Linked DNA regions of Homo sapiens. The protein of the gene in region 1 interacts with the protein of each later gene in a pairwise test. Each region holds a gene or a part of one and is shown on either strand. Other genes may lie near its edges. The genes, in order: TRIM37, DZIP1L, MCM10 and PRC1.

Region 1 (7,728 bases):
AAATGACACAATCCACAGAGGGAAAAGGCAACCCACACACTGGGAGAAAACATCTGCAAATCATATATGTGATAAAAGATAAATATTTAAAATATATACAGAACTCCTAAAAGTCAACTACAAATAAACAACCCAACCCAATTTTAAAATGGATTTAATTCACAGATGAAAGACATTGGAGAGGACACAAAAAAGGACACCCCTGCCAACAAGAAACTATTGACCCCGCACCTCCTCCAGCTTCTACCCACTTCATTGTGAAACTTCTTTTAAAGAAGTTGTGCATTTGTGCTCTGGTCCCTGACCTCATTCACTCTTCTGCTACACTACTCCATGGGAATAGTTCTTAAAAAGGCCACTTGGCCTCTTGCCTTGACACTTCTCAGTGATACTTAACACACTTAACACAGGGGTAACCACTCTACTTCTTGAGATGCATTATTTTTGATTTTTGAGATATTATCCCTTCTAGTTTTTCTCCTACCTTAATGATTGCTCTTTCAATTTCCTTTGCTGGCCTCTCCTATTTATCAGATCTTTAAATGTTTAAGTGCCACAGAGTCAAAAATTTTGCTTCTCCATTGAAACTCCCTCCAAACTTGACCCTATTCAGTCTTCTGGATTTAAATAATATAAAATACTATTGACTCCCAACTGTTTATATCCAGCATTGACCTCTCTCTGAGTTTCAAAGTTGTGTACCATTCACGTGTCTATGACATTTTACTAGGATATCTAGCAGGTGTCTCAAATTAAACATGTTTAAAAAAGAATACCCAACTTTCTGCCCTTACCTCCTCCCAAGCCCCATAACCTGCTTCTTATCTGATTTGCTTCTCAATAAATGATACCACTGCCTATTAAGTTGCTTAGGCCAAAACTTAATCATAATTCTTAGTTTCTTTCTAAATAGAACTTTCCTAAAATTCTATTTAGGCTTTTTCAACTATGGTTCTGAGAAAGAACTCAGCCCTGCTGATCTAAGACTGGATTAACTTCCCTCCTATGCATCTAGAATAGAATAGCACATCCTTAAGAGAACTAAGAAAGATGGGAACCTCAGTCAAGAAAGGCTGCTAGACTGTGAACAAGCCCCTCTATCCATTATTGTAACTCCAGAAAATGCCATCATATTTCACACAAGATAATGTAATAGGCTGTTACTGGTCTCACAATTCCTGTCCTCAACCCTTTTCAGACCCTTCTCCACACAACAAGCAAAGTCATCTTTGTAAAGTGTAAATCAGATTATAAACACCCCTTATTTTTATTCTCTAGAGGCTTCCTCCTTACATCATAATAAAACTCGAACTCCTTTTTGAGGTTTTGCAAGACTCTCCCTGATCTAAATTCTGCCTACCTCTCTCTGACTTCGTCTCCTGCTAGTCTCCTCTCTCTGCTTTCTTTGCCATACTGGTCTTCCTTCAATCCTTCAAATACGCAAAATAAATCCTGTGTCAGTGACTTTGCAGTTTCTGTTCTGTTTACCCAGAACACTGCTTGCCCTAGATCTATAAATAGCTGCCACCTTCCTAAACTTCAGGTCTCAGGTCAAGTGCTGCCTCCTCACAGAGACTTTCTCTGACTACCCCAATAGAACATGTCTCATCTGCTCCTCCCATCCCACTCCTCGGTTGTTTCCTTCACAGCACCTTTTACCCACTGAAATGATCTTTACTTACTTGTCTACACTTTTTAATGTCTGATTCCCACTACTAGAATACAAGATCTATGATGTTAAGAATTTTGTCTTGTTTATTGCCAAATACAGAGTAAGCAATCAAGAAATGTTAGTTCTATTATATAGTAAAAATATACGGAATCAATTTTGGATGAAGAAAAAAGTCACATGTAATTTGTAGTCTTAACTCACTGGAAGAGTGGTATTTAAATATTATTCTTTTGAAAAAACCAGTCATCTAGTTTCCCAAATAACGTGTGGAGAAATGACACTGGGAACATATTACTTACAGTTTCGTATGTAACAATTGGCAACTGATGACTTTGCCAGGAGTTCCATTCCCAAATCCTGCAATCTGCCAGAGTTTTCAGTTCCACATGCAGCCAGAGCTGCCTGGTCAGCAGAAAAAAGGCTTGTCTGCATGTCTCCAGAAGCAGCACTGCTGCTTTTTATTTCTGAAAGTGTATTCTTTACATCAGTTTTCATACATCGAACTTCGGCCATTTGAGTTTTGAGTCTTTTTAGCATCTTTAAATCAGAGGGCACTCGCCACATTGCCTGTTGCTTCCTTTGGTCTTTATCTTTTCGAGAATATGATGCTTCAGAGAAATTGACAAGTCATGTTAACATAAACGTTAATATTAATGAAATCATTTGTACCATGAATATATGCAAATTTGATGTGTAAAATAAGCTAGCGTGCTTTACGTGGTATCAACAATAAAACATGCACTAAATTCCATTAATGAAAATAAAGATAAAGAATCCTACCTTATTCACACCTTCAGAGTTAGAATCTGAGTCACATCATACTCAAGTTCGAATTACACATTTAATTCTAAAAGTTTAAAAGCTGCCCTACTGCCTTGTGCTTTCTTCTTTAAACTTCTCCACTTTTCTGAAACTTTCTACAGAGCTTTTATTATGTTTATAATTGAAAAAAAAGACAAAGAAAAATCTAGAAACCAAATACTTTGTCAAATCTGCCATATATAACATTATATTAAAAATACATATTTCTGGCCAGGTGCAGTGGCTTATGCCTGTAATCCCAGCACTTCAGGAGGCTGAGGTGAGAGAATCGCTTGAGGCCAGAAGTTCAAGATCAGCCAGGGGAGCATAGTGACACCCTATCTGTACAAAAAAAAATTTTTTTATTAGAACTTCCATTTCTGATAATTTTCTCAGAACTGTCAGCTTTCTGAAATACGGTTTGAATCTAACCACTTCTAAAATAAAACAATAGCTCTCCATGCCTAGTATGAATAAATTCCTCCGGCTAGCATGCAAGTCCTTTCATAGAATGGACCCAACATGACTCTAGTTCTACTTACCACTATATGTACCTTAAAATCTGGTTCAACTAGATTACCTGATACCTTTTACAGTACTCCTTTACATGGTTAAGAACATGAAGTTAATCTGACAAATGTTCACTAAATATGTGTTAAATAAATACACAGAAAAAAATAAACATCAAAGCCCAAGCAGGCCACGTGCAGTGGCTCACGCCTATAATCCCAGCACACTTTGGGAGGCCGAGGCAGGTGGATCACTTGAGCTCAGGAGTTTTGAGACAAACCTGGCCAACATGGTGAAACCTGTCTCTACAAAAAATTGTAGAGCACTCCAGCCTGGGCAACAGAGTGAGACTCTGTCTCAAAAACAAACAAACAATCAATCAAACAAAAAATGACCCAAGCAAGCCTTTTCAATAAAAAGAAAGTCATATATTTCTGCACACTAGCTTTTATTAACATCCCTTCACTGAAAGGTATTTTCATTTGGCTTCCATGAGTATTTTTTCTCCTTTCTAAAAGCTCTTTATCTGGCTCATCTTCCTGACACTCAGTAAAAACAGATATTCATCAGGATTATGTTCCTGGCTCTCTTCTTTTAAAATATTCTTAAAACTCCTTTGCAATCTCACACCCTTGGTTTTAATTATCCAGTATCACCTCCAGAAAAATAACTGTCTGTATTCCAGTTCATTTTTTTTTTTCATGGAGTTTCACTCGTTGCCCAGGCTGGAGTGCAATGGCACGATCTCGGCTCACTGCAACCTCCGACTCCCAGGTTTAAGCCATTCTCCTGCCTCAGCTTCCCAGGTAGCTGGGATTACAGGCACCTGCCACAATGGCCGGCTAATTTTTTGTATTTTTAGTAGAGACAGGGTTTCACCATGTTGGCTAGGCTGGTCTCGAACTCCTGACCTCAGGTGATCCACCCGCCTCAGCCTCCCCAAGTGTTGAGATTACAGGCGTGAGCCACTGCGCCCAGCCCCAGTTCTTAATTTTTAGCTGTCTACTGGTCCTTTCTAATTTGATGTCACACTGTTATGCCCAACTCAAGATGTTTAAATCCAAAACTTGCTTTTTCTTTCTACTATTTTCCCCGCCCTCATTATTGCCAGCATTTTATCACCTAAATTTGAAATTCAGATCATCTCATTTGTATTGTTTTTACACAGAAAACTAGTTTTACACAGAAATCTTACTATTTAGTTTGCATTTTTCCCAATGATACTGATTATTTTCAAAAACACGATTTTACTTGTCTATAAAATATACCATTGCATGGTTACACTGTAATTTATTCAGCTATAACTGTATTGTTGAATATTTTTAAACATCTGCTTGTTTTCTCTTTGGAATATACTCCTCAAAGTGAAATTACAAGTTTAAAGGATATAGATATTTTTAAACTACTACAAAATTGTCCTTCAAAAAGGTTAAACCAACTTACATATCTACCTACAGAATCAGAACCTGTCTGTTTCACTGGGCCTTTGCAAACAACACTTAACATTTAAGTAAAACTTTATATAAAGCATACTTGGCGCACACATAAAAGGCAACTGTTTCATAACCTGAAGATAGTCTTTTAAGCTGAGGATCCAGACTTTCAGGAAGTATATCTGGCTCTTAGGAAAGAAGAAGCCTAAATAATCTGGGCTCCATGTCCCTACACCAGTAGAAGAGCTCTATTTCTCTGTTATTTACACAGAGGTTCTGCCTTGGACTTTGATTGAAAAATGAGTTATCTTGCCTTAAAACTACATCAAAATCAGAGTTCTAAATCATTGATTTGATGTATATAATACTATTGTTTAAGAAGGTAGAAAAATATTTGGCATATATTTTTGAATATACTGACTATACTTTAGAAAGCATTCCAACAAAAATGGTTTTTAAAATGTAGCTTTTAAAGGCAAATACTTAGTTGTCCAAAATGACTCTATCCCCGAGAGTTTAAAAAAGCCCATATTTGACTATACAAATCTCCATTTTATTATAGTAACACAAATGTAATTTCTATTTAACAAATAACCTTTGCACAGAAAACAGTGCTGCCAACTGGCATACATTTTTAAGCTACTGAACATCAAAGAATGAGTAAGTCACCTTTTTCTACGTTCAATTTAGATATAGTTCCACTTGGAAGTAAGGGAATTCATGAAGCCTGACCAAAAAAAGTCCATTCATAAAGAAGATAACCGTATTTCATATGGATCAAACTGTCAGGCAAAATCTGAGTAGCAAGTCACAAAAAACCTTCTTGCAGGCATTTTTACTTTGTTTTTGCACAAATCACCTTTGAACGGTAATTTAAAAACTAATTTGGTTGACATAAATGTCATTTTTATGGTATACAATGAAAAACACAGAAATACACCATGTTCCACACATAGCTGAAATACTTAAATGAAAATCCAAGAGTTCTTTTAGAGAACCACAGAAAAAAAGGAAATTATCATTGTTATTATTTTACCTGTGGGCTGCAGAAGTGAAGCAGGTGGGCGAGGCTGTAAGCCCCACAAATTTTCTATACTGCTCCGGTCCTTAAGGTCCAACAAATGTATTAAAATTAATGGATCAATGTCTAGTAAACTACTGGTAGCAGCGGAGCATAAATGTGTTCTTCTTGATATTCTACTACTGGAACCCACATAACCATGGCTACTACCTGCAAAAGAGGCGTAGAAAATGATATATATATGCACAAACTTAGCTATACTTAAATGAAAAAATGAACTGGTTAACATTATATGAATACTTGTCTATGGACCTATCTCTTAGGAGTTCAGGTTCATGATAAGAAGCAGAAAGAAGGAACCAGGGCCGGGCGCGGTGGCTCACGCCTGTAATCCCAGCACTTTGGGAGGCCGAGGCGGGTGGATCATGAGGTCAGGAGATCGAGACCATCCTGGCTAACAAGGTGAAACCCCGTCTCTACTAAAAATACAAAAAATTAGCCGGGCGCGGTGGCGGGCGCCTGTAGTCCCAGCTACTCGGGAGGCTGAGGCAGGAGAATGGCGTGAACCCGGGAAGCGGAGCTTGCAGTGAGCCGAGATTGCGCCACTGCAGTCCGCAGTCCGGCCTGGGCGACAGAGCGAGACTCCGTCTCAAAAAAAAAAAAAAAAAAAAAAGAAAGAAGGAACCAGACAGTTGTACATTAGCACAGTGATTGAGTGGTGGCCTCATTAGTACTTAGAATTCAGAAGCAAGCCTCAACCCCATCCTGAGCCCTAGAAAAAAACAGATGACAATGTGTACGATGTGCACAATTGGGGGGATGAGAGGTAAGGGTAAGGAGAAGGAGATTATATCCCATGACCACCTGGTTTTAGATAAAAGAAGACAAATTCCCATAGTATAACAGATTACAAAGAATTAGACACCAAAATAGAAATCTCCCCCAAGTCTCTGGACAGTAAAATGTATAGGTCATGACAGTTTGGTAGACTTTTTCTACTTTGATTAAATAATGGGGTACAATTTGAAGTTTTTGGACTGTCATGTTAATGACTGATGCACATTACAGACATCTGTAGGCAGATATTATGCCTATACCCCTATATTGGACTATGCTCTTTAAGCCAAGAAAAGCATCTGACTTTTCTCTAGCACCTAGTATAATGCATAACAAATACCAGATATGGAAATGTTGCTTAAAACTGACCTTCTTCAATAAAGCTGTTTAAATATATTTTAAAGAGATAGAACATTTTAAAACAATGCTACACGCAGGAAAGTAGATAATATAAAATATTAAAAAGTCAGGTTCCAACTACCCATGAGTATTTCAGAGAGATCCAGCAGGATATAACTTAGGAGGAAAGTTCCATTGTTCAGAAGCTTCAAGCCAATTAATAATTTATGCTTTTCACATCCTCATGTTCTCACTGTCTCCCACTTCTGCCTCCTCTTCTAAGGATTATTATCTCACTGACAGTTTTTCTTCCCAGCCTCTGTATTACTGCAATTCCTATTAAATAACAGAAAACGATTTCCCCTTCACATTGAAAACTGTTCTTTGTTGTGTTTTGAGACACAGTCTCACTGTTGCCCAGGCTGGAGTGCAGCGGCCCGATCTCCACTCACGGCAACCTCCGCCTCCTGGGTTCAAGCGATTCTCCTGCCTCAGCCTCCCGTAGTGGGGACTACAGGCATGCACCACCACACCTGTATTTTCAGTAGATACGGGGTTTCACCGTGTTAGGATGGTCTGGATCTCCTAACCTAGTGATCCGCCCGCCTCAGCCTCCCAAAGTGCTGGGATTACAGGTGTGAGCCACCGCACCCAGCTGAAAACTGTTTTTACCTCTTTTCTTTTACTAAGGAATTCCCAAATTGGGTTGTATGTCAGTCAGCTGAAGGAGTTTTTAAAATTACATCCTAGATACACTGAACAAGAATACTGGGGTGAGAAGCTGGGTGCAGTGGCTCACGCCTGTTATCCCAGCACTTTGGGAGGCCAAGGTGTGCAGATCACCTGAGGTCAAGAGTTAGAGACCAGCCTTGCCAACATGGTGAAACCAAAATACAAAAGAATAGCCAGGTGTGGTGGCAGGCACCTGTAATCCCAGCTACTCGGGAGGCTGAGGCAGGAGAATTGCTTGAACCTGGGAGGCAGAGGTTACAGTGAGCCAAGATCACACCACTGCACTCTAGTCTGGTTGACAGAGTGAGACTCCATCTCAAAAAAAAAAAAAGGATACGGAGGTGAGATCCAGGACTTTTTCCCAAAAAGCTACTCAGATCGTT
Region 2 (7,728 bases), on another chromosome or scaffold:
GAAAGTGGGCAGGGGAAGAGATGCAACAACACTGCCCATGGGTTGATACTGTTAGTGTGTAGATAAAGGTTCATTATATTATTCTCTCTACTATTGTACATGTTTGAAATTTTCCATAATAAAAAGTTTTTAAAATATGCCAATGTCTAGGTCCCATCCCAGGGTGGAGAAACACCAGAGGCAGAGAGGTTAGCAAATAAACAGCATCTGTAATTCCACATCCCTCTCCTAAGACATTTTAGACATAAGCAATCTATCACATCGTCTTCTCACTGTAAAATTTCAGAATTCTTCTCAACACAGCTTTGGAGGCTGCCATTGTTAGTTAATCCATAGGCAGATTATTTGCTATCTTTGCAGACAATTGTGACAGGAATTGCCAGTTGTCCCCCAATACCCATTTTCCCTTTCTTCCTTGGTAATAGTAAGTCTGTGGCCAATGAGAATAAACACTCTATGTCCCAACCTTCCTAGCAACCAGGTGTGTCCACAGGACTTACTACTAAAAGGGTTCTGACCCTTTTAATCATAAACATCATATCAATTATATCAATTTGTTATCAATTAATAATATATCATAACGATTCCTTCTGTCCCACTGTGATATTGTGATACAATAAGAATGTAGGCTGGGCACAGTGGCTCACACTTAAAATCCTAGAACTTTGGGAGGCTGAGGTGGGCGGATCACTTGAGCCCAGGAGTTCGAGACCAGCCCGGGCAACCTGGAGAAACCCTGTCTCTAAAAAAATTAGACAAACATGGTGGTAGGTGACTGTAGTCCTAACTACTCAGGAGGCTGAGGTGGGAGGATCACCTGAGCCTGGGAGGTTAAGGCTGTGGTGAGCCATGATCAGACTGCAGCCTGGATGACAGAGTGAGACCCTGTCTCAAAAAATAAAAAAGAATGTATATTTGGTCTTTGTTCCTTCCTAGTTTCTGGCAAGGAGGTCCTAAAACACTTACAACAAGCTGGTTCAACCTGCAGCCAATAGGCCACATGTGGCCCAGAACAGCTCTGAATGCAGTCCAACACAAATTTGTAAACTTACATTATGAGATTTTTTTAGGAATTTTTTTTTTTAGCTCATCAGCTATCATTAATGTTAGTGTATTTTATGTGTGGCCCAAAACAATTCTTCTTCTTCCAATGTGGCCCAAGGAAGCCAAAAGATTGGACACACCTAACTTACAATCTTCAGAGTGATAAGGGCAGTAAAGCACCTTTTGTAATAATATTTGGTCTTAGAGATTCTGAGATCCTTGGAATCTCCAGAGTAATAAGAGTGTCTACTATTGTTTGAATGTTTGTCCCTTCCAAATCTCATGTTGAAATTTAATCTCCAGTGTGGCAGTGTTGAGAGGTGGGGCCCAGTGGGAGGTATCTGGGTCATGGGGCAGATCCCTCATATATAGATTAATGCCCTCCCTTGGGGGTGAGGGAGTTCTCATTCTTATTAGTTTGACAGAGCTGGTTGTTAGAAAGAGCCTGGCATTCCTCTCCCCTTACTTCCTCTCTTGCAATGAGCTCTGGACAGGCCAGCTCCCCTTCACCTTCCACCAGGAGTGAAAGCAGCCAGAGGCCCTCATCAGGTGCCCAGTCTTGAACCTTCCAGCCAGCAGAACTGTGAGTCAAATAACCTCTTTTCTTTATAAATTATCCAGCTTCGGTATTCCTTTATTGCAACACTAAACTTACTAAGACAGTGTTTTTTGTATGCTAATGAAAGGACTGTTGGCTGGGCACCTTCTGCCCCACCCCGCAAATGACTTTCTGGTGACCAACCCCCATCCTTTTTTTTTTTTTGGCTCATCAGCTCTCATTACGATTAAGATGCCGGGCTCAGGTAATCCCCCCAGGATGGGGGTTGGTCACCAGAAAGACCAAGGCATGGGTAGAGGGTTGGAACTTTCAGCCCCACCCTCCAGCCTCCAGGGAGGGAAGAGGGGCTGGACTACTAAGCAATGGCCAATGATTTAATCAATTATGCATGCTTGGTGGAATCTTATAAAACCCCTAAATGATGGGATTTAGAGAATTTCCAGATTGGTAAACACTAAGGTGCTAGGAGATGTCACACTCAGAAAGGGCAGGGAAGTTCCGAGTCCCTTCTCCCATACCTTGTCCTCTCTTGTCCTCAAGTGCATCTCTTCCATTTGACTGTTCTGACTTCTATCCTTATAATAAACTAGTAATAAAGTGTCTTCTTCCTGAGTTCTGTGAGCCATTCTAGCAAATTATTGAACCTCAAGATGGAGTTATGGGAACCCTCAATTTGTAGCCAGTTAGTCAGAAGTACAGGAGGCCCAGGTATCTGAAGTGGGGCCAGTCTTGTGGGACTGATCCCTTAACTCATGGGATCTGATGCTAACTCCAGGTAGATAGTGTCAGAATTGAATTGAAGGGCACCCAGGTGGCATTGGAGAATTGGTTGGTGTGAGGAAGAAAAACACACATTTGGTGTCAGAAGTGTTATAAGCAGAAATAGGTAACCCATCCATCCGTAAACTATGAATGTCTTAAAAACCTGAACCAGCATGATTTGTGCCCACATCCTCAGAGCCTGGCACAGGGCCTAGCCACCATGACAATTTTTATTAAAGGGCAAATGTCCCTAATCCATACTTCCATGGAGACACATGCAAACGCTCCATGTTGCTTTGGGAAATGAACTGTCACTTGGTTGAATAATGGAGTCAGTATTCCAGAATAGGCCTGGCTCCACCAATCCCTTGTCACACGTAGATTCAACACATGCACACACAAACCCCTCACACACACCTTTACACAACACACTCCTCTACATACACATACAAATCCTCCATCATATATAAATATGCACGCACTCACACCCTCTATAAATACACCCTTAGACACATATACATCCTTCTTCTACATACTCATCCTTACATACACTCTCCATAAGTACAAACACACACTCTTACACACATATATACCCTTCATTCATTCACACACACACAAACACTATTTTTTTTTTTTGGCAGAGATAGCTGAGGTTTTATTTTGGACCAAAAAAAAAAAGCAATTGAATTGTTTTGTAGCTGGAGGCATGGGCAAGGGGGGTCCCTAGGCAGTAAACTCCCCCGCAGGTGGGTTGAGGGCTAGGGCTGAGCCTCAGGTGGGTCTCCCGTTCCCTGTGCTACCCTGCACAGCAGCCTCCCCCGCTGGGCTCTGGGGCAGCCGCAGGAGGGGCAGGCTGGGAGGGGCTGCCACAGCTGTTCACTTGGGCAGGACGTCAGAGGACTCGGACACCAGCTTCCCATCGCAAGTCTCTATCTTCTTCACAACCACAGTGGCCCTGGTGGAGCTGGTGCGGCTGAAGGAGCTGGAGCCTGCGCCAGAGCCAAAGCTGGAGCCCAGGCCGTAGCTGAGGCCAGGGCTTGTGAGGCCCCCATAGGCCGAGCTCAGACCACCTGCATAGCCGCTGGTGGTCTTTGTATGGATACTTGTGTTCTGCATCTCAGACTCCAGCCGGCTTTCCTTGCCCTCCAGCAGCTTCCTATAGGTGGCGATCTTGATGTCCAGGGCCAGCTTGACATTCATCAGCTCCTGATACTCACGCAGCTGCCGCTCCATGTCCTGCTTGGCCCGCTGCAGGGCGCCCTCCAGCTCGGACAGCTTGGCGTTGGCATCCTTAATGGCCAGCTCCCCACGTTGCTCGGCATCTGCGATGCCCTCTGGCCTTTGAGGCCCTCAATCTCAGCCTGGAGCCGGCTGATGTTCTGGTTCATCTCAGAGATCTCAGTCTTTGTATGCTGCAGGTCATCTCCATGCTTCCCAGCCAGCATCTGCAGCTCCTCATACTTGATCTGGTACATGCTCTCAGCCTCAGCCCAGCTGCAGTTGGCGATCTCCTTGTACTGTGCCTTGACCTCAGCGATGATGCTGTCCATGTCCAGGGAGTGACTGTTGTCCATGGACAGCACCACAGGCGTGTCCGAGATCTGGGACTGCAGCTCCCGGATCTCCTCTTCATACAGCTGCCTGAGGAAGTTGATCTCGTCAGTCAGCCCTTCCAGGCGAGACTCCAGCTCTACCTTATTCATGTAAGCTTCATCCACATCTTTCTCGATGAAGGCAAATTTATTCTCCATCTTTGTATGCTTATTGATCTCATCCTCATACTTGTTCTCGAAGTCCTCCACCCAGCCCCTGCATGTTGCCAAGCTCTGCCTTCAGCTTCAGCTTCTCCTGGCCCAGAGTCTCCAGCTGCTGCCTAAGGTTGTTGATGTAGCTCTGAACATGTTGTCCATGTTAACTCTGAGCCGTCTTCTGCTGCTGCAGGAGGCTCCAGTTGGTCTCCAGCATCTTGTTCTGCTGCTCCAGGAACCATACCTTGTCTATGAAGGAGGCAAACTTGTTGTTGAGGGTCTTGATCTGCTCCTTCTCCTGGGTGCACATGGCCTGAATGTTGGGGTCCACCTCCAGGTTAAGGGGGCTCAGCAGGCTCTGGTTGACAGTGATGGCAGTGATGCCTCCCATGCCACTGGCCCCACCATAGCCTCCGCCCAGGTCACCCCGGAAGCTGCTGCTGCCCACTCAGGAGAAGCTCAAGGAGCTGATGCCAGCACTGGGCCCACTCATGTAGAAGCAGCTGCTGAAGACCTGGGGGCCAGAGGTGGGCACCTTGTAGGACTTCTGGGTCACCCTGATGAACATGGTGGAAGCAGGAGTGGAGGCAGGTGGGCTGAACCAGGCGGAGATTCCAGAAGGAGCAGAGAAGCTGCTTCTTGGTCACTAACACTATTAATACACCTTTTTATACATGCTCCAGAGTTGTATCCTTTATAACATAGTACAAGCACACATTACACACCACACACCCTACATACACACAGAGGTACCCTTCAAGTATTCACACACACACACACACATTAAACACACACACATGTTCACATCATTTACAAACACACACACTCGCCATACATTCATGCATATACATACACTAGACATGTACCCTCTCCATAAACACGCACACCTCCCACACATGTACAATCTACACACACATACACACACACACACACTGTAGAACCTAATGAGACACCCCCAGGCTCTCTGGCCATGAGCAGCATCTCTGAAATCTGCTCCTAACCAGTGAGAACAGCCCCCCAGCAGCCTTAAGGTCCCAGCAGTGCTGCCCAGTGGCAACAGTTGCCCCAGTGGCTGGGGCACACAGCCCTCCCACTCTCCCTGCCTGGTGGAGATTCCTCACCGTGTGGTAGCTGTGGGTGCCTGTCTGCATTAGCAGCTGCTGCAGGGTGCTGATCATCTTGCGACGCCGGCGGCTCTCCTCCCGCACACCCTTGAGCTCGTCAGCCTGGCGTCCCAGCTCCTGCTGACCACGCTGCTGCTGGCCCAGGCTGGTCTGCAGCCGTGCCTCCAGCTGGGCAACACTGGCACTCAGGCAATCCTGGCAGTGCAGCAGGTACTCAATGATGAGCTGCGCCAGGCGCAGCACCTTGAGCAGTGCCGGGTCCACAGGCTGCCCACAGCGGCTGCACACCTCCCGGTCCAAGTTGCAGAAGGTGATGCCAGCAATATTCTCCTGCAGAGTGGCCACATCCAGTTCCCGGGCCACGCGGTCTACATCCAGGGTGCTAATGCGTCTCCAGTCCATGCTATCATGGCGAGGCTGAAACTTGAAGGTGGGGAACGTGTAGGCCCCAAAGAGGGGGCCACTGAGGCCCTCAGCAGTGGCAGCTGGGGACTGCATGGGCAGAGGAAGCCCTGAGCTGACCACCAGAGGAGGGGGGCACCAAGGCCACGGCAGTAGGCCAAGGAGCTGAGAGAAGGCCTGGAAAATAAGAAGAGAGTCCAAGTTAGGTGAGGTGTGTGTGGCTGCACCTACTGTATATCTGGCCAGCAAGGGCCTAAGCGGGGCAAAGTGAGGTGTCTGTGCAGCAGCTGTAGCATTCATGGTGTGTGCTGACATGGCCAGAGCTGTGGAAAGAAAACATGGGCTTTGCAATCACACAGATGTGGATTCGAATGCTCTGCCTTGGGCAAGTCCCTGCACATCTTTAAGCCTCCTGTGTCTAAGGAGGAACATGGGTCCCACTGTGCAGGCCTGTGGTGAGGAATGAGGCAAGTGAAGCACCCAGCCTAGTGCCTGGCACATAGCAGGTCCTCAGTGAGCCCCCTCTGCAAAGCCCACCTCCACTGCAGGAATGCCTGGCAAAGGCCTTTGTCAGCAGGTGACTATCAAATTTACAAATGGGTCCTTCTGCAACCCTATTTTTATCTCAAGATAAAGTCCGACAACTTGCTGTGAGTGACCAAGGTTCCTAATGTCCACCCTGTCTTCTCTTTCTCATATAACTACAGGATTCTAATGGAACACGAGTGAACTACCTTTCCCAGCTTCTCCAGCAATAACGTGTGATCATATGACTAAGTTCTCTCTCCTGGAATGTGAGTGAAATGATGTCCACCCCTGTCAGGAGGGGCTTAAGAGAGTTACGGAGTCTCTGCCACATGGTGCTCAATCCATCATGGGCTTTTTTTTAACTTAATAGTTAAGTAAAAAGATCTCTAGTTTCTTTGCCAAGACTCAGATTCTACTCTCTAAACTCTTGGTGAGCATATGAACTGTTCTCTCTGAAAAGTAATTTGACAATATCAATGGGAATTTTGAACATTCCACTACTAAAAATTATAATTATGCTACAAACTCATATGTACAAAGGTACTTGTGAAAAAATTGTCATTGTAGCATCTTTTATAAAAGCAAAGTAAAAGAAAAAGTAGAAGAAAGCAAAGTACAATGTATCTCTATGCAATGGAATATTATGCAGCTATTGATTGGTATAAAGCAGACTTACATGTACTGATATGAAATGATAATCTCCAATATATATATATGTAAACACACACAAAATAGGCATATATACCTCTATTTCTGTTTTAATGACATATTAATATAATCATATTTAATAACTCACCAAAGTGAAAGATATATATCATATTAGAATGGTTGTCTATGAGAGGAGGGAGGGAAATGGGAGTGTGGAATGGGGATAAATAAATGGATGGATGGTGTGTGGGTGGTGATGGTCAGATAGACAGGTAAATAGGCCTTCACAGACCAATGATGATCATTTTATATAAATATATATATATATACATATTCAGTCGTCTGTCAGTGTCCATGAGGGATTGGTTCCAGGACCCTCCTCAGATACCAAAATCTACAGATGCTCAAATTGCTTATACAAAATGGTGTAGTATTTGCATATAACCTATACACATTCTCGCACACACTCTAAATCATCTCTAGATTATTTATAATACCTAATACAATGTAAATGCTATAAAAATAGCTGTTATACTTAATTATTTAGGAATAATGACAAGAAAAAAACTCTGTACATGTTCAGTACAGAAGAAACTATCCTTTTTTTTTCAAATATTTTTGATCCGCAGTTTGTTGAATCTGTGGATGCAGATCCACAGATATGGAGAGTCAACATATATATACACCCATACACACACATACATATGAAAGACTCATATTTGTTATAATTAGTTTTATAATGAATAAAATATGCTCATTTATAATTCATATGTATGATTCACTTATGTATATTATTTCATAAGCATAGACTGTTTCTGGAAAGATAGACAAGAAGCTATTAGCAATGGCTGCCTCTGGGAAGTGAAAATAGAGATTACAGGACTTTTATTTTTCACTTTCTACCTCTCTGTAC
Region 3 (7,728 bases), on another chromosome or scaffold:
CAAGGCAGGAGGATCATTTGAGCCTGGGACATGGAGGTTGCAGTGAGCCGACACTGCAGCATTGCACTTCAGCTGGGGTGACAGAGTGAAAACCCGTCTCAGAAAAAAAAAAGAGAGAGAGAGAGAAAATGACAGCCAGCATGTGAACCTACGCTCTCCCCCTTCACAAAAACCCTCTTTACATACACTTCACTCCTTTCCCTTTTCCATGGTGATAACGACTCTAACCTGTACCATTTGGTGTTGGGAGTCACCAGTGTAAGAAATAATACAGCCTTAAATGCTATTCAGGTTATGGGAAAACTATTTTAAACTTTCAGAGTTAAAACGCAGCCAACCGAAACCTGAAGTCACATTCTGGAAATCGATGAAGACGTTCTGAGGACGCCTGAGATGGATGACCCAAGCGGGGAATATTAAATCTGCTCCTCTTACCGCTTCTGTATTTCTTCTGATTTCCTTCTCCTCATCTCCAACATCCGCTGCTTCTGTTGCTTCAAGAGTGCTGAGGCCGAGATGGACTTGATGGCTGGTTTTGGGCTCCCCATAATCCCTGAAACAGAAGCCCAGACTGAGGGGGTGCCCTGGGAGGCTGAGGGAACACAGGGACACACGTGTGGCCATGCAGCTGATGGTACCTGAAGCTGTGGCTTTGGCTAAATGTTGTTTTAAGTTCCTGGCTCCACACGTCGGCAGGTCCATCAGTTCCTTGAACTCCTCAGAGCAAGACAGGCTCTTCTGGGGTATTCCTGTGCCAGGTCAACACCAGCTTTAGAGGATTCACATTCAGATGGTTTGAGGTCATATGACATACCACTTTCTAAACTCTGCACTTGTAATTTTAGTCATACGTAAACGAAGAAGACGGAATCCCAAGAGGAAAGAAAAGAATCCTTAACCTCTATCATCAGACTCATAGGATGGCAGGGTATCTCGACTATATTTTATTTCTAGTAATGATTAGAATATTAAGCCCTTAAATCTGGGGGTCATTCCATACCCTGTTTCTGGAATATCCGCTAAGGATAAGGGTCCCTGACCACAAGCCCAGGATGGGGGCTGCATTCTCTGATCAAGACTTGTTTTTATTTGTTTTTATTTTATTAAAAATTTTTTTGTTTTTATGACCAAGACCCATTTTAACAAAAGATAACCAATAAGCTTGGCCAGGAAGATAATACTGCTGATTCTAATGCTGGATGTAAAGAGTTGGACCCAGATACACCAAGAAATTTTAAAAAGCATACTAAGGTAAGACATAGCTAAAATCAATATGCTGTTTTTTTCCTTAAGGTCCTGCAAACCTGGCTTGATTCCTTTAGGTTAGACCGCGCCACTCACTAAGTACAGGTGATGACTGGATTCTTATTACTTAAGAGTATGAGCTGTATCCATTTTCAACCCTAAAGACTGCTTGCTTGCTTGCTTGCTTGCTTGCTTATTTATTTATTTTTGTGCATGAATAAGTTCTTAGTGGTGATTTCTGAGATTTTGGTGTACCCATCACCGGAGCAGTGTACCCTGTACCCAATGTGTAGTCTTTTATCCCTAAGGCTGCATAATTAAACTGGAGAAAGAAATTTCTTATGGAAAAACAAAGTTACCGAGTTTTTGCCGTGTTTCCTGGATGATCAAGTTTGTGCCCTTAACAACCAGATTACTCAGAGTGGTTTGAATCTTCTTCTTAGGAGCCACAGCTGCTGCACTGAAATGACAAGTCACCCCCAAAAGGAGAATCACTAAAGCCTCAATGCTCTGATGAGGTAAAGAAGGCATAGATATCATCATTTATTACACACACCGTCAAAGTTTCTCAAAACACCATCTAAGTAGGCTTTCTTAATGTTACGGCCCAATAGCATAACTGGTTTATGCACTGTGTCACAGAGGAAAAGCTAGAGGCAGCCTACAAATCCACTTGAGGCCATTCTGGAAGGAAATTTGGCAAAAGAAATAAAAAAAAAGCCAATGCTTTGATCCAGCAGTCTGGATATTTATCTTAAAATAATTAAGGATTATGCAAAAATTTAGGATATTAATGGCAGCTTTGTTTATAATGTCATACATTGGAAACACCATTAACGTTCACCCACAGGGAATTGTTTAAATGAATTAAGGCAGAGTATGCAAAAGAACACTATGTAGCCACTGAAAATACATGAGAAAAACATTAATTATTTTACACTGGAAAAAAAGTGGATACAAAGAATAGGAACAATATGATCTCATTTTATATTACTAAAAATGTACACATATGAAGAAACACAACACCTAGGAGTATATATACCAAGGAACTAACAGTTTGGGGTTTTTTTTTTGAGACAAGATCTCACTCTGTTGTCCAGCCTGGAGTACAGTGGAGCAATCCTGACTCACTGCAGCCTCAACTTCCCCAGGCTCAAGCAATTCTCCCATCTCAGCCTCCCAAACAGCTGGGACTACAGGCATGTGCCACCATGCCCAGCTAATTTTTTTTGCATTTTGTAGAGATGGGGTTTTGCCATGTCGCTCAGGCGGGTCTCAAATTCCTGGGCTTAAGCAATCCTCCTGCCTTGGCCTCCCGAAGTGCTGGGATTACAGGTGTAAGCCACTGTGCCTGGCCTAGAACTAACAGTTTTTCAGGTGATAGGATTATAGTTGGTTTTTATTTTCTCCATTGGTTGGATTGTATGTTCTTTTAAAAGACTAATATACATGTATTGTTTTAGCAGATTGGAAAAATTCAGAAATAATTTTAAATCTCAAAAACATGCTTACTGTTAAAAAAGAAACAGGAAATGAGTCCTCTTGCCCCATTCCTGCTGGATTGGGAACAAAAATCTATGTTTTATTCTTGGACCAACTGTAGCTGCCTCGTGCCAAGTCCTCAGATATGCTTTATATAATGTAGTGACGAGGCCACTGATTACAAGCTTATCCAAACCATAGCCTGCGGGCCACATGCAGCCCAGGATGGCTTTGAATGCGGCCCAACACAAATTCATAAACTTTCTTAAAACATTAAGAGATTTTTCTTTTCTTTTCTTTCTTTTTTTAAGCTTATAGGCTATCATTAATATATTTTATGTGTAGTCCAAGACAATTCTTCCAAAGGGGCCCAGGGAAGCCAAAAGATTGGACACCCCTGGATTACAGCGTCAGGGGCTGTAGTGACTCTGAACCCCCAGGCAAGGGGCCATGGATGCCTGCCCAGCATCGCCCCACTCCCCATGTGAAGCTTCATAGTATATTCACTCACTGAATGAAATTTGGGTTCCATGAGGTCTGTAGCCTCACTCATATAGTCATACGAGAAATAATTAAAAGGGTGTTAACACTGTAATTAACACATTTTTAATGGCCCTGATGAAGGTGCACTATTCACATTAGAAGTCAAAGAGGGGCTGGGAGCAGTGGCTCATGCCTGTAATCCCAGCACTTTGGGAGGCCGAGGCAGGCAGATCACCTGAGGTCAGGATTTCGAGACCAGCCTGGCCATCATGGTGAAACCCTGTCTGTACCAAAAATGCAAAAATTAGCTGGGCGTGGTGGCACGCGCCTGTAGTCCCAGCTACTCAGGAGGCTGAGGCAGAAGAATCACCTAAACCCAGGACTTGGAGGTTGCAGTGAGCTGAGACTGCACCACTGCACTCCAGCCTGGGTGATAGAGTAAGACTCCGTCTCAAAAAAAAAAAAAAAAGTTGAAGAGGAAGAGTGGGCTCTCTTAAAGTCCAACACAACATAAGTCAATCTCTCTCTCTCCTGAAAGTTTTTCTCTCTACCTGGGAATAAAAGCGGTCTTTAACCAACTTGTTTCAAGTAGTGAGTTATGAAAGATAAAACCTGTACAAGTATCCTATGACGGTTACAGGAAGGTACAACCAGTAGGTTTAGTCTTTGATAAGCAAAATCCTCTGCCCAAAAGAAGCCCGAGAACGTCTTACATTGAAGCTGCATACGAGGCAGAAGAAACCCCTCCGTAGTAAAAGCCATCTTGGCACAGCCGTTCTTTGAGGCTGGTGCCTCTGCGGGCAAACTTCTTTGGAATTCGTCCTCCAGAGAAGGTGGACTGCAGATCCGCACGCTTTGCGCTGAGCTTCTTGTACTGAGCCTGGACATGGTACTGACAGTACTCACAGTCACGCTGCAAAAGGCAGAGCAGTGGCATCAGGATGAGGGCAACAGGCTGGGAAACAGCAGTGAGCAGACACAGTTCCTTCTCCCCACTTCCCGGAACATGACGCATGCAGAGTCCTCCCTGCTGACCTCCACGACCGTTCCCAATGTGGAAGGGCTGCTCAGTCCCTGAGGGGAAGAAGTTCTTCCCTTCGAGTCCCCTGAAAGCACTGTTCTGGTGAAATACCCCTTGCCCTCTTTCTACAAAGGAAATCAGCTTTTAGGATGAACCTTGAAAACAAGTTAGGTGAAAGAAGTCAGACACACAAGGTCCTATGTTATTTAATATAGGACCTATGTTATTTAATATAAAAGGAAGTTTTTATAGAAGAGGCAAATCCATAGAGACAGAAAGCAGATTAGACGTCACCAGGAGACGGAGGGAGTGGGGATGGGAGTGATGACTTTATGGTGCCATTGTTTTTACAGGGTGATGGAATTCTGAAACCAGGGAGCTGGTGGTTACACAACTAAATATCACTGAATTATATATGTATTTTAAAATGATTAACTGTATATTGTGAATTTTGACCCAATAAAAAATAATTTAAAAACAAAATCAGCTCCCAGCGAGGTTTTTCTAGCTGTTTCTCTGGTTGATCCTCGGACAAGTGCTATCCTTTCAGTGAAAGAAACAAAGAGAGATGGTGCAGCATTGTTCTGCTGGGTGAACAGTAGTTACGGCGACAATGGATTTTTTTTTGGAGACAGAGTCTCGCTCTGTCACCCAGGCTGGAGTGCAGTGGCGTGATCCTGGCCCACTGCAACCTCCAACTCCTAGGTTCAAGTGATTCTTCTGCCTCAGCCTCCCAAGTAGCTGGGATTACAGGTGTGCACAACCACGCCCAGCTAATTTTTGTATTTTTACTGGAGACGGGGTTTTACCATGTTGGCCAGGCTGGTCTTGAACTCCTGGCCTCAAGTGATCGGCCCACTTCGGCCACCCAAAGTGCAGGGATTACAAGTGTGAGCCACCGCCCCATCCAGACAATGGATTTTTAAGAATCTAATTCTCACGGGGAGATCTGTTGGGTACTTCACTCTGAAACCTCATTTTCCAACCGTCTCCCACCTTATTCTTTCCTGTCCACCAATTAATCTAATAGGAAGGAATAAGGGAATAAAAAAAGATTAAACCAAAACCTGTCATTTAATCCTTTCAAAGAACTCTAAGAAGTACCTCTTCACACCTACTACAATGGCTATAACAAAAAAGAAATAGAGTAACAGGTGCTGATGAGGACAGGGAGAAACTGGAAAGTTCATCCATTGCTGGTGGGCCACTTGGGAAACCAGTCTGGCAGTTCCTCCAAACTCTGGACAGTTACCATGTTGACCCAGCAATCCCACTCCCAGGTATATGCCCAAGGGAGTGGAAAACATACATCCACATAAAAACTTGTATGTGAGTGTTTTAGCAGCATTATTCATAATAGCTAAATGTGGCAACAACCCAAGCGTGTATCAACTGATGAAAGAATAAACAACGTATGGTATATCCATACAATGGAATATTATTTACCCACAAAAAGGAATAAAGTGTTGATAAATGCTACAGCACGGATCAATTGTGAGAAAAATTATGCTAAGCAAAAGAAGCCAGACAGAAAAGGCCACATATTGTGATTCCATTATATGAAATGTCTAGAAGAGGCAAATCCATAGAGACAGAAAGTAGGTTAGTGCTTACCAGGGGCTGGGGGAGAGGAGACTGGGGAGTGATTGCTAGTGGGTACTGGGTTTCTTTCTGGGGCAATGAAAGGGTTCTGAAATTACACAGTGGTGATGGTTGCACAGCTCTGTGAATGTACTAGAAATTACTGAATTGTTGACTTTATTTATTTATATTCTTTTTTGGAGACAGAATCTCACTCTATCGCCCAGGCTGGAGTATAATAGTGCGATCTCAGCTCACTGAAACCTCTGCCTTCCAGGTTCAAGTGATTCTCTGGCCTCAGCCTCCTGAGTAGCTGGAACTACAGGCGCCCACCACCATGACCGCCTAATTTTTGTATTTTTAGTAGAGATGGGGTTTCACCATGGTGGCCAGGCTAGTCTCAAACTCCTGATCTCAGATGATCTGTCCGCCTCGACCTCCCGAAGTGCTGAGATTACAAGAGTGAGCCACCACACCTGGCCTGAATTGCTTACTTTAAAAGGGTGAATTGCATGGTATGTGAATTATACCTAAATGAAGCTATTATTTTTTAAAAAGCCCTAAGAAAAGGTATAATGGAGTTAAAATATAGGCTAAAATACAATTTTCATTGTATTTCATCATGTTTGCTCTGTGGAATTACAAGAATTAAAGGCAAACAAAAATTCTGTCTTAAACTTCTTGGTCAGATAAAAGATCACTTTCCTAAGAGGTTAAATCCCCTCACCTTTCCCCTGCCCTCACTTTTTTAAACTGGCAGTTATTAACCACACATTAAATTTTCTCATTTTGACTCTTCCTTTAAGTGGGAAACTCAGTTCCAAACTGGTCATCACAGCTAAAGCACCAACAGTTTATTCCTAACTGTTCTTTTCTTTAGCAGAAACCATCCTAACAAGGCTGAAACCAACCAAATTCACAGTCTGCGTGCACGGCTCTCCATTCTTCTTCTTGGCTTTACAGGTTCCCAGGTCAAGAGCTTCACCCATAATTAAGACCTTCTGAGGATGATCGATAGATAAACACACCTGTAAGAAAAGGTGGGGCAGGAGTTAAAGGCGGACAAAATTATGGCCTTTTATTAGCAGGAATAGAAAAAAGAATGGTTGGTGCTGATTTAAGAAGGTTATTGCCAGGCGCAGTGGCTCACACCTATAATCCTAGCACTCTGGGAGGCCGAGGCAGGTGGATCGCTTGAGGCCAAGAGTTTGAGACTAGCCTAGGCAATGTGGCAAAACCCTGTCTCTACAAAAAACCACAAAAATTAGCCAGGCATGGTAGTGCGTGCATGTAGTCCCAGTTACTTGGGGGGCTGAAGTGGGAGGATCACTAGAGCTTGGGAAGTCCAGGCTGAAATGAGCTGTGATCACACCACTGCACTCCAGCCTGGGCAACAGAGTGAGGCCGTCTCAAAAAGGAGAGAGGTTTTAGTGGTCTAAAGGAATTTGAAGCCAGGGCTCTATAACCGTTTTAGGAACAGGGATGCAGAAGGCACCTTCAGTTCTTTTCCCATTTTCCATCCTTTCCTTCATCTTTGCGATTGGAATCCTGATTTTCTCTAGGCTGGCTGACTTCTCAGCCTCAGGTCATAGATCCTGTTCCCTGTTCTCCCAGCACTCCTTAGAGCTAGCATTGGTTATGTGATAAGTTCTAGATGCTCAGACATAAACAGGAGTTGGTAGGGAAGCTTCTGCTTTCCTGACAAAATGAGTTAGGAGGCTGGCTCCCCCTTCCTCTTCACTTCTTGCCTTGAATGGAGATGACTGGAGGGAGACAAGTCCCTCAAGGGCCTTGCTGAACTCAGCTCTCTCCCTTCTTGTTTGCAATTCTCTTCTTGGACAGACTGTACCAAGAGGGACTGTCCTGAATAGCTCGGGCTTTGTCCTCACCCCTCCTAGGACAAGATCTCTTACAAC
Region 4 (7,054 bases), on another chromosome or scaffold:
TGGTTTGGTTTGGTTTTGAAGTCCCTTCTTGAAATTTGAGGAGGCTGGGTGCGGTGGCTCATGCCTGTAATCCCAGCACTTTGGGAGGCCGAGGCGCATGGATTGCTTGAGGTCAGGAGTTCAAGACCAGCCTGATCAACATGGTGAACCTCCGTCTCTACTAAAAATAAAAAAATTAGCCGGGCATGGTGGTGAGCACCTGTAATCCCAGCTACTCAAGAGGCTGAGACAGGAGAATCTATTGAACCCGGAAGGTAGAGGTTGCAGTGAGCCGAAAGCACGCCATTGCACTCCAGCCTGGGCAACAGAGCGAGACTCCATCTCAAAGAAAAAAAGAAAAAGAAAAAAGAAATTTGAGGAGTTTGGTATTGGTGTTGGGAGTTTTTTTCCTCCATTGCCCCAAACTTATGGACTGTTTTCCCTCTTGTAGGAACTCCTGGATATGATGATTGCTGAAGAGGAAAGCCTGAAGGAAAGACTCATCAAAAGCATATCCGTCTGTCAGAAAGAGCTGAACACTCTGTGCAGCGAGTTACATGTTGAGCCATTTCAGGTCCGTGGCAGCCCACAGGGTCTCTGGTGATCTGTCTGGGGCCTGAGACTTAGAAAGCAACGTTGACTTGGGCCTGCAGATGGAAGGCTTCCTCGTAGGGATGGAGCTAGACGTAAGAAGTGGGGAAAACATGCTGTGTAGTTAATTAGGCCCAGCAGAGTAATTCTCACCTCTGTAGAGAGTTGCCCTGGTAAGAGGTGAAGCAACTAATAGATGATCAAAAAGAAGCTGCTGCTTACCATAGTTTTGCTTTGTAGGGAATATGAATTTTTTTTTATAAACGCTGAGAAAAAGGTAGGCATAGATGGTGCTGCAGTGTTCTTTCTCTGAAAGAAAATGAAAACAGGAACAAAAGTAACTAATGATTAAAAGGAATACTATGAAAACACCAACCTTTGTGGGTTTTATCATACCCAGAAGCTGCATACCACTGAACCAGCCAAAATGGCTTCTTCAGAAGAAATGTCTCAAAAGCTGGAATACTGGGAGTGCATAGTCCATTTCAGAGCATGCCATGACATCCATCTGGGTATGGAGCTGAGAAGTGGCTATATTGTGGTCCACTGCAAGTCAGGGACTTGAGTGAGGACACAGCAAGGATGAAATGAATAACAGATGGGGTCCTGAAAATCTCTGCTTAGAACCAGTAAAAATAGTGCCAGGATCATAAAAATTAGGACAGATGTGGAGCTTGGAAAGACAATGAGTACACCCATAAGGTTCTCAGGTCCCTCTTCCTGTTACAGGAAGACCTGCCTGGATATCTATTTGGAGTTAGCTTAGGAGGGAGATCACCTTTAAAGGGCAAAGGATAATTCATACTTGGTAGCCAAGAGCAATCAGGCAGAAGAGAACATGAAGTGGAGCTTCCTGGAGTCAACATAAATGTCATAAATATAATTGATTTTGGACATAGTTTCTCTTTCTTTTTTCACATTCCATGTGAAATTGGGCGAGAAGTGAGGTGTACAACGATCATCTCCCTTAAGTTACCTGATGTTCCTAGTTCACAATGTTAAATGAAATTGTGTAAATGTATAGGACATTTAAGAAAAATGTATATGTCCTATAAAAAAATGCCACTTTTTTTTTTCTTGTTAACCAGTTAGGAGTAGAGCAGGGACTACCAGATGGGTTTTTGTTGCTAAGGTGAGACGATGTTCATAGGATTAGCAGGATGAGTATTTAGATATGAGCTAGGCATGCCACCCTATAGCTAACCCAAAGCAAGCTTTCCAGCCAATTTACACTGTTATTTCTTTATTTATTTAGAGACAGAGTCTCGCTGTGTTGTCCAGGCAGGAGTGCAATGGTGTGGTCTCGGCTCACTGCAACCTCCGCCTCCCGGGTTCAAGCGATTTTCCTGCCGTAGCCTCCCGAGTAGCTGGGATTACAGGTGTCCGCCACCATGCCTGGCTAATTTTTCTATTTTTAGTAAAGACGGGGTTTCACCATGTTGGCCAGGTTGGTCTCAAACTGCTGACCTCGTGATCTGCCCACCTTGGCCTCCCGAAGTGCTGGGATTATAGGCGTGAGCCACCGTGCCTGGCTGCCAATTTACACATTCTATAAAAGTGCCTGGTGCCTGGAGTAGTCTAATCATAGAGACAAAAGGTAGAATGGTGGTTGCCAGGCTTGGAGAAGGGAAAAAATGGGGACTTATTTGTTTGAGTATGAAGTTTCACTTTTGCAAGAGGAAATGAGTTTTGGAGGTGATGGTTATGATTGCACAACAATATGACTGTACTTAATACCAATGAACTGTACACGTAATGGTTAAGATGGTAAATTTTATGTTATATGTGTTCTACCACAAGTTTTAAAATTGGGGGGAAAAGTACCCTGGTACTTACTCACTTTTCCTCACTGGGACCTTCCTTAGGAGACCCTCTTTGTGCCATATTCTGTTGACCATGAGTTGACTTACTTGTTAGTTTAACTGAAAGTCTGTCATCCACGCCTTCTTATGTTGTCCTTCTCTTCCTCTGAAGGAATTCACTTGGAATCTTATAACAGTGGTACGTTGTCTTATTCAGGAAGAAGGAGAGACGACCATCTTGCAACTAGAAAAAGATTTGCGCACCCAAGTGGAATTGATGCGAAAACAGAAAAAGGAGAGAAAACAGGAACTGAAGCTACTTCAAGAGCAAGATCAAGAACTGTGCGAAATTCTTTGTATGCCCCACTATGATATTGACAGTGCCTCAGTGCCCAGCTTAGAAGAGCTGAACCAGTTCAGGCAACATGTGACAACTTTGAGGGAAACAAAGGTACACTGCCTACATTTGTTCTTCCTAAAAGTCACTTTGGTTTTCCTCTAGGTATCTTGTAATTGCTTTGTTTTAAAGGCTTCTAGGCGTGAGGAGTTTGTCAGTATAAAGAGACAGATCATACTGTGTATGGAAGCATTAGACCACACCCCAGACACAAGCTTTGAAAGAGATGTGGTGTGTGAAGACGAAGATGCCTTTTGTTTGTCTTTGGAGAATATTGCAACACTACAAAAGTTGCTACGGCAGGTACTGTCTTCTCAAATTATGCCCTAGGATCTCCGTAGTATATAGCAGTTTGAACAAAACTGACAGCTGTTTCTTCAGTCTTAAATAAGGAGACAATGTAAGGTAAGAGAATGAGGGAAGCTAAGGATAGTAATATATGATATACAACCTTGATTTTTGTTTAACAGTTAAAAAACCTTTATATGGCTCCAAGAAAATGAAATTATAGATGAAATAATATTAGTCATTTGAATTAGACTAGTGTTTAATTAAAATTTTTTTCAGTTCTAAATTTGAATGCTAATTCTTGGGGTCTGAGATCCCGACAGCCTTACAGCTCGTGTTTAGGAGGCATGAAAACATGCTACTTTGAACTCTCATGAAAGTGCCTCCTCCTCTACTCCAGACATTTCTTTGCGGGAGGCTAGAGGGCTAGCCTCTGTGCTGCTGCTTTGCCGTGAGTGACACTGGCTTTCTATGCTGTAGCTGGAAATGCAGAAATCACAAAATGAAGCAGTGTGTGAGGGGCTGCGTACTCAAATCCGAGAGCTCTGGGACAGGTTGCAAATACCTGAAGAAGAAAGAGAAGCTGTGGCCACCATTATGTCTGGGTCAAAGGCCAAGGTCCGGAAAGCGGTAAGAAACCCAGTGGGTACTGGGTCAGCAGTCTTCTCTTAGCACTTCTGTGTTAGTCATAAAGACTGTTGTTGATTTGGCCAGGCTCAGTGGTTCATGCCTCTAATCCCAGCACTTTGGGAGGCCGAGGCAGGTGAATCATTTGAGGTCAGGAGTTCGAGACCAGCCTGGACAACATGGCGAAACCCTGTATATACTAGCCAGGTGGTAGTGGCGTGCGCCTGTAATCCCAGCTACTTGGGAGGCTGAGACAGGAGAATCGCTTGAGCCTGGGAGGTGGAGGGTTGCAGTGAGCCAGAATCGCGCCACTGCACTCCTGTCTGGGCGAGAGAGTGAGACCCTGTCTCAAAAAAAAAAAAAAAAAAAAAAAAGTGTTGATTTATAATACCTTTGTGGCTTTGCATTATAATTTTACTTAAAAGGGGGGGATCTTTTGCAAACCTGAGTGAATATAAAACTATGGCAGCCACCCTTAACAAGTTTCTTTCTTTCAGCTGCAATTAGAAGTGGATCGGTTGGAAGAACTGAAAATGCAAAACATGAAGAAAGTGATTGAGGCAATTCGAGTGGAGCTGGTTCAGTACTGGGACCAGTGCTTTTATAGCCAGGAGCAGAGACAAGCTTTTGCCCCTTTCTGTGCTGGTTAGTACAAGAGTGAGGTCTTTGGTTTGTTTGTTTGGAGACAGGTCTTACTCTGTTGCCCAGCCTAGTCTCAAGTTCCTAGGCTCAAACAATCCTCCCAACTTGGCCTCCCAAAGTGTTGGGCCACCACACCCAGCCAAAAGTGGGGTCTTCATGTGGCCTGCTCACTAGTTTTTAAGACATCCAGACATTCAACAGGAAGTATATCCTTTTCTGAACAGATAAAGCCACCTTTTCAAGACATTTAGCATAATTGCCATTCCTGTATGAAAAAGCATTTGCAAATTTTATTGGGAAATATTGGTCTCTTGCTTTCTGAAGCAATATGTCACTGTAGCCTCTAGCTGTGAAGCTTAAGTTTTTATCAGGTGCTTACTTTTTGCCAGGTGCAGTGTCAAACCCTTAATATTATTTCACATCCTCATGTCAAGAGGTGAGGATACTAAAGCACATAAATGCTGAGTCATTTAACCCAGAGACATATAATGGTAAATGCCAGAGCCTACGTTTGAGCCAAAAGGAGCTTGACTCCTGGAGTCCAGTTGAATGCTAGTCTGAACTGCACTGAATATAAAGATGGAGCTACCCCAACTAAATTCAACAGATGTTTTTGCACATTTTCTGTGATCCACCCCTCTACTGGCTGGGCAAGACAGAAAAGCAGAATATGAAAGAAACCGAAGACAAGGCAAGAGATGATGCAGATTTTTGACAACATTATTTTAGTCTCTATCCTAGTCTCTTAGGCCCTACTCCCCCAGGCTGATTGTGACAAAGCTGGTTTTTATTAACCACTATATATCTATTACACACACACACACGCCTCTTCCTGTATCAGTTTACTATAAGGAAAGAATCTATTTCCATTTTAGGGAATCGGGGATTCGTAAAATTGGATACTAAATACTAGAGGAATTGTTTTAAACTACTGGGCCTATATTTTGCAGAGGACTACACAGAAAGTCTGCTCCAGCTCCACGATGCTGAGATTGTGCGGTTAAAAAACTACTATGAAGTTCACAAGGAACTCTTTGAAGGTGTCCAGAAGTGGGAAGAAACCTGGAGGCTTTTCTTAGAGTTTGAGGTATTGTCCTAGTTTTTGTGTTTTTAACTGTTAAGAAAGCATGCCATGTACGGAATCAATCCAGTTAGCTTTGTTCTTTGCCAGGCTTTTGATACCCCATCTTTATCATTAAGTCTCTCTGAATTTCTGCTGACCGCCTCTGTTTGATAAGCTTATCTACAGGGTCTTTTAAGAGAAAAGCCCAAAATTAATGGCTTAAATAAGGTAGGCATTTCTTGCATGAATGAGGTTCAGAGGTGGGCAGTGTGGGGCAGGCATGGCAGATCTGCACAGTGAGCAGGACCCCAGGCTTCTCCGGCTCAGGGCGCTCCCCCACCACTAAGGGTGGACCTCATCTTCAGGGCCAGGATGGCTGCTAGAGCTCCCACCCTGATGGCACTTTTTTTTTTTTTTTTTTTTTTTTTGAGGTGGAGTTTCGCTCTTGTTGCCCAGGCTGGAGTGCAATGGTGCGATCTTGGCTCACCACAACCTCCACCTCACAGGTTGAAGTGATTCTCCTACCTCAGCCTCCCAAGTAGCTGGGATTACAGGCATGCACCACCACACCCGGCTAATTTTTTGTATTTTTAGTAGAGATGGGGTTTCACCATGTTGGCCAGGCTGGTCTCAAACTCCTGACTTCAGCTGATCTGCCCACCTCGGCCTCCCACAGTGCTGGGATCACAGGCGTGAGCCACCACGCCTGGCCTGATGGCACATGTCATACAGTGTGGTGGAGGAAGGAACAAAGAAGGCATTGCCCCTCACTCCTTCAAGAGCTCTTCCCGGCTCTCTTCACAGCACCGTGGCTCACATGCTCTGTCACCTGCTGGTGAGGCTGGGTGAATTGCTGCCCCAGGTAAATTCTGGTTCTGTTAAACTAAGGAAGGAGAGAAGAATGGATGTTGGGGCAGGCAACTAACATTCTCTACCATTCCAACTTTTGCTATACTTAGAATATTGCATGGGTATTGATTCCTTTTCTTCTGATAGGCAACATGGTGGGTTCCTTCAGAGCATTTTAGAGCTCAGGGACTGTGGTAAAGCAAGTGAGGTGTGTAGGGCACAGATGGAAGGAGACCTTGTTCTCGGGTTCATGCTGGCCCTGTTAGAGCTCAGAGGGCCTTCAGAGAATCTGAATTCAACTCCTTCAAGTTTACAGGCAGCAAACTAGGACTCAGAAGTGGAGAGAACTATGGGATATCTTACAGCTGCTTAAGAACAGATGTCTTTGTCCTCAGTTATTCTTTACTTCTGGTTACAACAAGAAGAGTAAACATAAATAAGGAGGCCAGGTGTGTGTGGTGGCTCACGCCTGTAATCCCAGCACTTTGGAAGGCCGAGGCAGGCAGATCAGGAGGTCAAGAGATCGAGACCATCTTGGCTAACACAGTGAAACCCCGTCTCTACTAAAAAAATACAAAAAAATTAGCCGGGCATGGTGGCGGGCACTTGTAGTCCCAGCTACTCGGGAGGCTGAGGCAGGAGAATGGCGTGAACCCGGGAGGCAGAGCTTGCAGTGAGCCAAGATCGCACCACTGCACTCCAGCCTGGGCGACAGAGCGAGACTCTGTCTCAGAAAAAAAAAAAAAAAAAAAAAAACGTAAATAAGGAGCTAAGGCAGCAACCTTTGTTGACATGCCAATATTTAAGAAGAAAACA

The links.
Region 2: the proteins of TRIM37 (region 1) and DZIP1L interact in binary tests that used the Homo sapiens proteins (3 or more experiments, as listed by UniProt).
Region 3: the proteins of TRIM37 (region 1) and MCM10 interact in a two-hybrid assay, tested with the Homo sapiens proteins (2 studies listed by BioGRID and IntAct).
Region 4: the proteins of TRIM37 (region 1) and PRC1 interact in binary tests that used the Homo sapiens proteins (3 or more experiments, as listed by UniProt).

The regions. Positions count from the first base shown.
Region 1 is NC_000017.11:59,026,444-59,034,171, forward strand, and holds part of TRIM37 (E3 ubiquitin-protein ligase TRIM37), read right to left. Parts: intron 5,648-7,728; coding exon 5,453-5,647; intron 2,281-5,452; coding exon 1,972-2,280; intron 1-1,971. UniProt on the Homo sapiens protein: E3 ubiquitin-protein ligase required to prevent centriole reduplication. Probably acts by ubiquitinating positive regulators of centriole reduplication.
Region 2 is NC_000003.12:138,098,237-138,105,964, forward strand, and holds part of DZIP1L (cilium assembly protein DZIP1L), read right to left. Parts: intron 5,817-7,728; coding exon of another isoform or gene 5,736-5,816; coding exon 5,235-5,735; intron 4,758-5,234; exon of another isoform or gene 3,000-4,757; intron 1-2,999. UniProt on the Homo sapiens protein: Involved in primary cilium formation. Probably acts as a transition zone protein required for localization of PKD1/PC1 and PKD2/PC2 to the ciliary membrane.
Region 3 is NC_000010.11:13,185,276-13,193,003, reverse strand, and holds part of MCM10 (protein MCM10 homolog), read right to left. Parts: intron 6,841-7,728; coding exon 6,724-6,840; intron 4,124-6,723; coding exon 3,924-4,123; intron 1,706-3,923; coding exon 1,605-1,705; intron 750-1,604; coding exon 639-749; intron 554-638; coding exon 436-553; intron 1-435. UniProt on the Homo sapiens protein: Acts as a replication initiation factor that brings together the MCM2-7 helicase and the DNA polymerase alpha/primase complex in order to initiate DNA replication. Additionally, plays a role in preventing DNA damage during replication.
Region 4 is NC_000015.10:90,977,517-90,984,570, reverse strand, and holds part of PRC1 (protein regulator of cytokinesis 1), read left to right. Parts: intron 1-430; coding exon 431-553; intron 554-792; exon of another isoform or gene 793-879; intron 880-2,480; exon of another isoform or gene 2,481-2,589; coding exon 2,590-2,823; intron 2,824-2,901; coding exon 2,902-3,072; intron 3,073-3,537; coding exon 3,538-3,687; intron 3,688-4,181; coding exon 4,182-4,329; intron 4,330-5,276; coding exon 5,277-5,413; intron 5,414-7,054. UniProt on the Homo sapiens protein: Key regulator of cytokinesis that cross-links antiparrallel microtubules at an average distance of 35 nM. Essential for controlling the spatiotemporal formation of the midzone and successful cytokinesis.